Regions from separate parts of the Homo sapiens genome. Here region 1 is linked to region 2. A link means that fine-mapping ties the variant in region 2 to the expression of a gene that starts in the linked region. Tissue or cell type: whole blood. Region 2 holds a variant in brackets; the other region holds the start of a gene. All regions are shown on one strand. Distances are between the middles of the regions. Region 1 holds the start of EEPD1 (endonuclease/exonuclease/phosphatase family domain containing 1). Region 2 overlaps EEPD1 (endonuclease/exonuclease/phosphatase family domain containing 1).

Evidence for each region. PIP is the estimated chance that this variant, and not a neighbour inherited with it, causes the effect.
Region 1: EEPD1 starts here. The variant in region 2 is fine-mapped to the expression of EEPD1 in whole blood (TOPMed, PIP above 0.99).

What each region holds. Positions count from the first base shown.
Region 1 is chr7:36,150,476-36,155,847 of GRCh38, reverse strand. EEPD1 (endonuclease/exonuclease/phosphatase family domain containing 1) reads right to left here and starts at 2,594. Exons shown (of 8, transcript NM_030636.3): 1 at 2,174-2,594; 2 at 646-1,715. The coding sequence starts at 1,523. RefSeq lists a silencer at 2,463-3,182.
Region 2 is chr7:36,177,611-36,182,982 of GRCh38, reverse strand. The region is part of intron 2 of EEPD1 (endonuclease/exonuclease/phosphatase family domain containing 1); the gene reads right to left. Among named protein-coding and RNA genes, the nearest start is that of EEPD1, 27 kb to the right of the region's middle. The variant C/T (reference allele first, on the strand shown) is at 2,677.

The DNA of each region.
Region 1 (5,372 bases), 27 kb after region 2:
GGAAAATCCGGCCAATTTTCACACACACACGTCAGCTTGCTTTTTTCTGGCTATGGCACAGAAAAGGTTACACACATTTTGGGCTACAATTTTAGGGCTGAAAACCAACTCCAGGTTAAATAAGGAAAAAGAATGGAGAGTGATTCATTCATAGCATTTTGGTAAATATAGACACTTGTATGTGTTTGCAAATACTTGGCCTTTAAGATGATTTTGTGTGCACAAATAGGCATATTTGATGGAACAAATATGATTTTCCCTCCCATTAATAAACAAAATCCAATGAGCTCTTTCTCACATGCGAAACTGCACCAGTTCCCATGCTCTGAGTGCCTGACTTGGTGTAGACCCAGCATCCTCCAAAGCAGTAACAAAAACACAACCTCTGCTTACCCCAAAATTATGAATCAGTCTCAGATATCTCACACTCAAGACATGGGTCACAAGCCCAGCTGTATTCAGAAAATTCTGGAGCAGAAGGACAGCCCATTCTCAGGTGACGGTATTGGCTGAGGCTTCAAGAACATTGATTAAAAACTCTTGCACCCTCCCTACCCGCAAAAGAATCCATTCATTTGCATCCATAGATGAGGTCACGCACAAGTTGCCTTCACACCCAACACCCATGGTGGTTCCTGTCCTCACCTGTTTTCCAGGAGTGTCATGCACACCACCTCTCGCACCCCGGGGTTGTTGGCCTTCTCCACGGAACAGCCCTGCAAGTTCCAGGTGGCCAGCCTCAGCACAGGCCTCCCATCCCTTGTGCCTCCAAAGGCCTCCACGGACGGCCGAGTGGAGATAATCTGGGTGGGCCCCCCTGGCGGCAGGTCCAGGTCCTCACTCTGCAGGCTCAGGGAAGTGGGGCTCGGGTGAGGCTTGGCGGTGAAGGTCAGTCCCCCGTTCGTGTGGGTGGATGGGGGCCTGGACCTCTCAGCAAACACCTGGTGCCGGATCCTGTCCAGGAAGGCGGCATTGATACCATCCATCCTCACTAGGTCCTCAACGCTGCGAAAGGGCCCATGCTCACGGCGGAAGTCCACGATGCTGAGGGCCATTTTCTCCGAGAGGCCTCGCACGCTCATGAGCTGGGCCGGGGTGGCTGTGTTGATGTTAACACGTGGGGTGAGGGGCACAGCTGTGGCCAGGTGGTGAGGCTGCTGCTCCGCTAGCAGGTCCCGCCGCAGGGAACTGGGAGAGTGCTGCGCTGAGCTGCCCTTGCTGCTCACACAGATCTCAAACTTGACCTGCTCCAGCTTGGTGGCGCCTACACCACTGACCAATGCCAGGTCCTCCACCTTCTTGAAGCCACCGATATACTCTCGGTACTCCACGATGCTGCGTGCCACGGCACGCGTCACCCCAGGCAGGGTCATCAGCTCCTCCTCCGTGGCAGTGTTGATGTTGAGCCGCTCCTGATTCACTAGAATGTTGCTGAAGTTACAGGCTGCGCTGAACTTGCGGCTATGGGACAGGTCCGAGGGGTCCCTGGGGATGGAGCGGTGGCAGCCCAGGGTGCTCCCCATGGTCCGCCAGGATCAGGCTCCCGGGAAGGCCGCACCACTGCAGAAGAGCTCTCTGGCTAGGGAGGAAGCCCAGTAGGCCGTACAAGCACAGAAAAACGGAAGGTGCAGGATTCAGGGACTGAAGAGGTTACTATAGACAAACACCGAATCTTCCATGCCTGGCGTGTCCAAAATTACCTTTCACTTGGCCGCCTAGAAAATAAATCAATAAACATAGAAACCCATTGAATTAAGAAATTTGCATTAGCACCCCCTACCTAGTGCTAGAGTTAGTAACCAGGAGTCGGGGACTGGTGGCTGCCCGTGAACCCCTAAAAACGCAGGCACAATGAGGCTAGGCCCATGTGGATTCTCCTCTAGGGACGTCCGGGTTTTATCACACTGGAGTCCAAAAAGGCTACGAGCCGCTTCTCTTGGGAAGAGACCTATCCCCATCAGCCTCATGCCTCTCCTCCAGGCCTCTCTCAACTCTGACACTTGGGTCACCCACACTTGGGCTCGCGCAGACGGGGTGGCCACTCCACCTCCCCCACGCTCCGCATCTGACACAGCGCTACCTGCAACCTGGGAAGTCCGTGCTCCCCGGAGCGGGCACTGAGAAGGGGCTTATCGACCCCCCACCCGACCTGCCGCGGGTCCCCGCGCCCCACCTCTCGGCCGCTCTGCGGGGCGCCGGTTCCTCTTCCACCTGCGGCTCGGAAGCCTGAGCCCAGCCCGGGACAGCACGGGCCCCCTGCCTCCAGCCTAGGCGTCCGCGCGGGTGTGGGTCACTGGTCAGGCCCTGGAAGCCGACTACGCCGCTTCGGTCTGCGTGTCCCGGCTCTTTCTATGGGAGAAACTTAGCATCGCTCTCCCAGAGTGAATAGAAGCCGCAGGGCTGCTCGGAGGCGGCGGCAGCGGCGGCGAAACCCGCCGCCGAGGCTGCACCGGGGCTTGCGGCGGCGCCGCCGCAGTTGCGTTTACCCCGGCAAAAAGTCCTGCGCCCAACTCGGGCGGGGATCCGCCAGAGCCAGTCCAGACCCAGCACCAGCCGCACGGCTCCCGCTCGCAGTCGGTGTCAAAGCCAAAGTCCCGGCCGCGCCGCGCCGCGCCGCTCGCGCCTCCGCAGGCACCGCGGCCACGCCTCCTCCGCGCGGCAACTCCTCCCCGGGACTCCCGAGGGCACGTGGGGGAGGGGCCCTGGCGCGGGGCGAGGCCTGGCACCAGTGGGTGGAGAGAGGAACCCGAGAGCGCAAGGGCGGGCCTGGAGTGGGAGAGGCGGGGCCATGGAAGAGGGGGCGGCATCAAGGCTCAAGAGGGTGGAGAACGAACCAGAGAGCGCGAGGGGAGGCCCTGGCGTGCGAGAGGAGGAGCCATGGGTGTGGGGGCGTGGCCTGGCACAAATGGGTGGAGAGCAGAACCCTGGAGCGCGTGGGGCGGGCCTGGAGTGCGAGAGGCGGGGTCATAGAGTGTGGGAGCGGGGCCAGGGCGCGATGGGGTAGGAAAAGCGGGGGCGGGGCCATGAGCGCGGGGGTAGGCCCCGGGAGCGCAGAGGCGGGACTTAGGGGGCTTAAGGGGCGGAGCCGGCGCCGTGCCGGCGAGGGCGGGTCACAGGGAGGCTGTCCTAAGTCAGCTGCCCCCGGACCATGGTTGCCGCCCGGGGCCTAGGACTGGTTGTGCCTGGTAGAGGCTGTTTAGGATTGCCCGAGGCGAGATCTGCTCAGCTGCTTTTCGTCTGTCTTTGAGGTGTGGGGATGAAGGCCGGGGCAGTCCCTGAGAGTGCATCGCTGTAGGTCCAGGGTCTCACGGAATTTTGCAGAACGTTCCAGAGGAGACTGAATGGGATCGTCTTAATTTCTGTCCCCACTTTCGGCCTTTTCTTTTCTTCCACCAGTGTATTACCTTTGCTCCGCTCAGAGAGATGTCCTCTAATAACGCCAGCGACGCATTGTGCTCCTAGCAGAGGGCACGCACCACCCTCCTGTGTGTTCGCATAGGTCAAATACAGGTTTGCTCCTTTGCACATTTAGCGCTGTGAGTAAACAAGGATAAGTTTTTGTAATATTAAGTCTAATCATTACGAAGGAGGGAAATGGGGGCTGCTTCCCAAAACCCAGAAGAGTTTTTGCATCACACTGCTAAATGACAATTTGGTTAAAGATTAAAGAGCCCTCTGCATTATAGTGGATACCTAGAGCTAGAGTATTCGATTAAGCAAATCATGCGGTGATATCGTTGAATACTTTGACCCTGGACGTTTAGTGTTCTCTGAAGTTTCATCCCCAACCAATGTGACCAGTGCATCTGGTTTCAATTCCAAGGACTGGGTCAGCAAAAATAGTACCTCTCACAGGCGGAAGGTACTTTGGTTGTAAAATTAGCGGCAGCCCAAGTTTGGAAAATGCTACTGCCTTTCTGAGGCACATTCCCCTGCTATGTATATTGGTCAGAAAACCAAGTCAAACTAGCTTAGACCAAAAAAAAAAAAAAAAAGGTCGGGGGGAAATTTTTGGTTCCTTGTTGAAAAGTTAAGGTAAGGAATCTTACCTCAAGTCTGGTTGCATCCGACCCAAGTGATGATGGGGTCATTAGGACATGGCAGGACTGCCTCCATCTCTGGCTCCACGGTTCTCTTTATTGGCTTTATTTTTAGGCAAGCTATTTGCACTTGATCGCAAAAATGCCTTGCTACCTACCATCATCTCCCACCCAAACACTGGGCTACATTATGCCACGCACTGAAATCCTGGTGCGGTAAGGAAAAAACAGTTTAAGACAAGCAGGAAAACAGAGAAAACTCTTCGTTGAGCAGAATGCCTTGATGCGCAACGTGGCTGTGGAAGCACAGCCGTGGAGCGTGGCTACTTGGGCTGGAAGCAGAGAAAACATATTTTATCATACAAACCAGGACACTCTGGAGGTGAAGAGAGGACTCTATTAATAATATCCTAGAACAACAGAAATAATCTGGTTTTATTCCCCATAAACCTAGCAAATGCTCCCCTTGGTATAAATGAAACCAAGCGTTGGCCAAACCAAAGTGCATTTAAAAACACACATACATACACCCCACAAAAACATGCAATGAGATGGTTAACTTTAAAACGACTGATTGTATCCAATGTTGGTGAGGACGCAGAGCAATTGAAATGGTCATACATTGCTGGTGGAGGTGTAAGATGGCACCACTACTTTGGAAATCAGTTTGGAAGTTTCCTAAGAAGTTAAACGTATACTTACCATATGACTCAACCAATCTACTTATAGGTATTTACCAAAGAAAAAGGAAAACATGAAACCCAGAGACTTGAATGTGGATGTTCATAGGAGCTTTGTTTGTTATAGCCAAACACACACACACACACACACCCACACACACACACACACACACACACACACACAAAGCAAAACAACAAGAAACTCAAATCCATCAGTGGATGAATGAATAAATTGTAGTATATCCATACAATGGAATGCTACTGAGCAATAAAGACAAACTATTACATGACATTGAAAAGTCTCAAAATCGTTATACTGAGTGAAAGAAGCAAGGCAAAAAAGAACATACTGTATGATTCTATTTATATAAAACACCAGAAAATACAAACTGACATACATATAGAGAAAGCAGATCAGTGGTTACCTGGGGATGATGGGGAGGGAGGAATGGATTTTAAAGGGCACAAAGAAACTTTGGGGGCTGATGGCAATGTAGTTTGAGAGGTGATAGTTTCATGGGCATATGAATGTCAAAACTGACAGAATCGTATACTTTAAATATGTGCATTTGGGTGTACTTCAGTGACAACAGCTTTGGAAAAATCTTCAAAAAATGAAAAAAAATTTTCTCTGAATCTAAAAAAACATAGG
Region 2 (5,372 bases):
TGTGCATGGCTACTGCTTTCCACAAAGGGAAGGGGTCAAAGGTCACATGAGATGACCACCGGGTCCTAACTGGATGCAGATACCCTAAAGAGCCTGAAGACATGAAGCACAACTTTACAAAGCATGAAAAGACCCAAGATACTGGATTTAACTTCACAGGTGCAGTTTTTAGTGCCTGCATCTGTGAATTGGTCCCGTGTCCATCACTGAAAGGAAGTACCCTCTGCTCTGCTTCCGTTTTATAATCCCCAAGATGGAGATCAGGAGTTCCAATCCTGACTTGCCTGCTTTCCAGCTGTGCATTACTGGGCAAGTCCACACCCTCCTTGTAGAGGTGAAATGAGAAGCTTGTGATGAAAGCCATGCGGGGCCCCAGGCGGGGCAAACGCTGGCGAGTGGTTTGGTGTTAATGACAAAAGAATGATCAGGCTATTTATGTAACTTTAAACTTAAAAATCATATTTTATATATTGTTTTTAACCTCTGTATAAGTTTTTGAAAGGTAAGATATTCACATGGTTCAAAAAAATCAAGATACTATAAAGAGAGGCACTCTGAGAAATCCGGTTCCCACACTGTCCCAGCCCTCCCCGTGCCCCCACCATGGACTGCCATTGTGTTGGCTCTTTGGTGTCTACGCAGGATCTCTCAATTATTTACAAATAAACACAAATATATATTCTTACTTTTCTCTTACACAAAAATGCAAAGAAGATATATATTGTTCTGTACCTTACTTTTTGCTCTGAACACTATAGAACAGAAATTTTTCCATGTGGGCCTTCTCTTCCTTCTGTTCCAGCTGCAGAATGTCCCCCTTTGTGGCTGGACTACAGTCTAAGTGGACACACAGACTGTTTCCACAACCAACGCTGCGATGCACAACCTTATCCACGCTGGTAAGACAAATTCCCAGAAGCATATTGTAGATTTTACTTTCCCCCATGCTATTATTTTATCAGTCACTTTTATTCTTGTCAATGGCTTTCATCAATGGTAAGAAACGCAACAGATGGGAACCGGGATGGCAAAAGTCTGGGGAATCCTGGTTTTCACTGGTGATATTGGAGAAGGAGTAACAGATGGGGCAAGTCTGTCCTGTCATGCTGCCCTCTCTCCTCCTCCTCTTTGTTAACATTGCCACACAAAGAGTTGAAGAAAGAACAAATAGGGACATGGGACCTAAAAATAAATGTGCTTGTAATTTTCCATGAAAAAGGGAGCCTTGAACTTCATACAACCCACTGCTCCGTGATGCTGAGGTCTTGGAAGCACCAAGACAAAATCCAGACGGTTCCTAACTTCAATAATGTTGCCATATTTCTTTATCTCCTACACCTTTATATCCTCACTTGCCACATTTCCCTGTAACATGAGGGCAGTGTTTGGGGGCTAGGCACATGAGGGAGCCACAGAATACAGGCCAACTCCAGGTGCTTCTCACTTTGGCCACACTCAACTCGCACATTCAAAACTGTTTTTTCTGCCTCCTAGGTGTCAGGCTGTGCTAGACAGATGTTAGGAGTGCAAAGATATAATCGCTTGTCTTAAGTCAAAATGATTGACTCTGGGATGGGCATTGAGTTCCACAGCTACCAAACACAGAGGTGAGCACAGGACACCAGAAGGGAGTCACAGCCAGGAGGGCTACCCAACAGCATCTGTGCACACTGACAGCACAGCCACAGCCCTCCGAGTGTGAAAGGGAACAGAGGCACGTGAGGGGAAATCAAGGCAGTGGGGTGTGGCGGGTGGGGTGTGCAGGGCATGGGACAGAGTCATGAGATGTAGACAGCGCGTGGATAGGAGACTGTGAACCGCCTGGTGGACCCTGCTCAGTGGTCCCTAAACTTCTGCCTTTGCCAGCATTACCAGGGAGCTTGTCAAATGCACATTCTCCAGGCTACCTACAATGGTCAGCCCTAGCAGGTCTTGGGGAAGCTCAAAAAAGCACCCTGGGGAATCCTTCTACAGATCCAACCCAGCTTTAAGAAACGCTGCTGGGGGCAGTGAAAGTGTGGGGTGGTGGTCCAGGTCACCCTGGAGCCGGCAGCAGGGAAGAGGTGAGAGGCCAGGAGCCGACTGAGGGGGACCCTGATGCAGAAGTCCAGGTGCATGATGAGGGGGTGGGGGGCCTGAGCCTGCAGAGCAAGGGACAGATTTGGGGTGGAGCTGAGTGGATGTATGACTGAAGACTACTGTCCCAGCGGGCACAGAGCAGGGAAGGAGCCCGACCAGTCCAGAATTGGAACCAGCTTCCCAGAGGAAGGGATTTTAAGTTGGGATCTGAGGATGAGCTGGCATTCATGAGGTATCCAGGCAGACATGTGCAGACTCCTAAAATACTCAGTCACCTAAACTTCCCAGGGCTGCCCTAAGAGCCACAATCCCCACCCCCAATCACGAATGTGTTCCAAGCATGTTTAATAAAATTTCTCCTGCCTACCTCCCTGCTTTAGGACTGCAGCTGTGGGTACAGTCACAGGATTCCCAGTATTCCAACAGTAAGGCCAAGGAGGGGCACGATGGCCCTGGTTTCTGGGAAGGGAGCAGCAGCCTTTCCTTCCACTACCCCCAGAATGGAGAATGAAAGTGTGGGCAGGGCATGAAGGAGACAGGAAGAAAACAGCTGTTGCCTCATCCCCTCTGCCTCCCCAGTAAGCCACACAGAAATGA[C/T]ACAATGGGATGGGACATCTGGTACCAATGAGGACAAATGGGGATCAGATAAGTGACTTTCATGCCCACGCACAGGAGGTGTTACCTTTCCCCCGCATCGCTTTCTCCCGGTATCAGCTAGTTATTCTAAACATCCCATGCCAATTACCTAATTCCTTTATTAATGAACTTAATTTGGTGGAAAGAGTCTTCTTAGAGTCTTTCTTACTGCTCTCTAGCTCCTGCATGCTGTATCCAAGTCCCTCAGGTGGGTGTCTGGGAGCCACGGCTCAGTTTGCTGGGGAGGAGCCACGCTTGGAATCAGCTGGGAGGCTCAACACCCACCCCGGCCCCACTCAGGGCAGTGAAGGGCATCCTGAGAGTGCAAGCCAGGGGTGGGGGACACACTTAAGGCTCCTCGGGTGACTCAGGTAACTGTGCTTCACAAACAGCATCCAGCAACACTGCTGAGGAGGCCGAGCCGAAGGGCTCAACCCTTCATCCCAAAGAGCTCATGCTGATTTCTACAGTCTGCAAACCACTGTACAGATACAGTTCTACGTAATCATTATCCTCACAGGCATGCGCCACCACGCCCAGAAAACTTTTTTTTTTTTTTTTTTTTTTTTTAGTAGAGACAGGGTTTTACCATGTTGGCCAGGCTGGTCTCGAACTCCTGGCCTAAATGATCTGCCCACCTTGGCCTCCTAAAGTGCTGGGATTACAGGCATGAGCCACCACACCTGGCCTCTTTTTTTTATTTTTAAGACAGTGTGGTCCTTTCTTGCCATCTTGGCCAGGCTGGTCTCGAACTCCTGGGCTTCAAGCAATCCTCCCGCCTTGCCTCCCAAAGTGCTGGGATTACAGGTGTGTGCCACTGTGCCCAGCCCTATTCCTAATTTTAAAATAATGCATCACAACTTCAACCATCTTTATAGCATTTGAGCATGTAACCCCAATATATATATTACTTATTGATAAATCATGTAGAAGTACTGACATAATATTATACACCTTATAAAATGCAGCTAAACTAGAAATCTTTAAAGATGGGATAACATACACACAAATAGAAGTTGTGGGAACCACCAGCTCCCACCAGCCCATTAGTGGTCAGGGAAAGGAAAGGCTGGTTACCACTGGGGGTAGTAAACCACTAAATCCCGCAGATTAAAGCCAGGACATTGCTTCACTCAAATGTATCTTTTAAATACATGTTTGGAAAAATAAAGAGGAACTCTGTAAGAAAAAGTTGGTTTGCAAATTAATACATGGTTCACAGTAATTTCTTTTATTATTTTCTTCCCCTTGGAAAAGTACCATCCCGCCAAATGCCAAGGCCATAATCTCTTTTCAAGTTTAAATCAAATCCCCAGAATTCATAAAGGAACATTCTCCTGAACAGAGACTCAGAGAAAGGGTTCTAGACTTTAGGCTTTTCTAAATTAACTGAACATGGCCTTGGATTAAGTTATCTCCCTGGAGCAATTAAGACAGGAAGGCAACTCATCACCTTAGAGACACAGTTTACCTTCGAGGGCTCCTGACCTTGTGCCAGGCACAGTTGGAAGCCACACCAGTGCAGGGCAGGAGAGCACACCCTGCCTCATGGGACTCATGATGGTGCACAGGTGTTCATGGTAATTACAATTCTGGAGGGCTCCTGAGGGGGCACAAAGTAGACAGGGCCTATCATGCACTCCTGGCTGGCTTTTCCAAGAGCCACACGATGCTGGTACCTAAAGGAAGAGCAAGGGTTGGCAGAAGAGAGGGAAGACTGTCCCAGTTAAAGCCCATATGAAATCTGGAAGAATTTCCAAATGGCAGGAGAATCAAGGGCTTAGAGACAGCTGGAGGAATCATGAGATGAGGAGACCAAGAAGGGGCCCAGGTGTAGGGGGAGGGCCCCCGTGGCCGAGAGGAGTCTGAACTCACCTAAAGCATAGGGGAGCCCCAATGCTTTCAGAAAGATTCAGCTCTCATTCAGAATTCCACCTTTACTGCAGCGTGTGGCTAGGAGAGGCTGGGCAGTGAGCCTGGACTAGAGACCTGGCCTTGGCCAGGCTGGAGAAGAAAGTGACAGTGAACAGTAACCGCGGGGATGGCAGTTGTGGTGATGACACTAGGAGCCAGGTGTGGTGCAAGTGCTTTACACTTATTTATTCTATTAACTGACACAACAGTTTCCTGAGGTAGGAACACTGTCACCTCCATTTTCCAGGGAAGAAGATGAGGCCCTGAGGGCTTAAATGACTTACCTTAAGTCAGACACTTGAAGCAATAATGAAACACTGAGACATAAAAACTGTGAAGGTGCCAGGCGCGGTGGCTCATGCCTGTAATCCCAGCACTTTGGGAGGCTGAGGCAGGTGGATCACCTGAGGTCAGGAGTTCAAGACCAGCCTGACCAACATGGTGAAACTCCGTCTCTACTAAAAATGCAAAACATAGCCGGGCATGGAGGTGCGCACCCGTAATCCTAGCTACTCGGGAGGTTGAGGCAGGAGAATTGCTTGAACCTGGGAGGTGGAGGTTGCAGTGAGCTGAGATCATACCACTGCACTCCAGCCTGGGTGACAGAGTGAGATTCTGTTTCAAAACAAACAAACAAACAACAAAACAGCTAAGGCAAATAAGATGCCATGGAATCAGCCTAGATGCCCATGAACAGCGAATTGGAAAAAGTGGTTCCTACACACCATGGAATACTACACAGC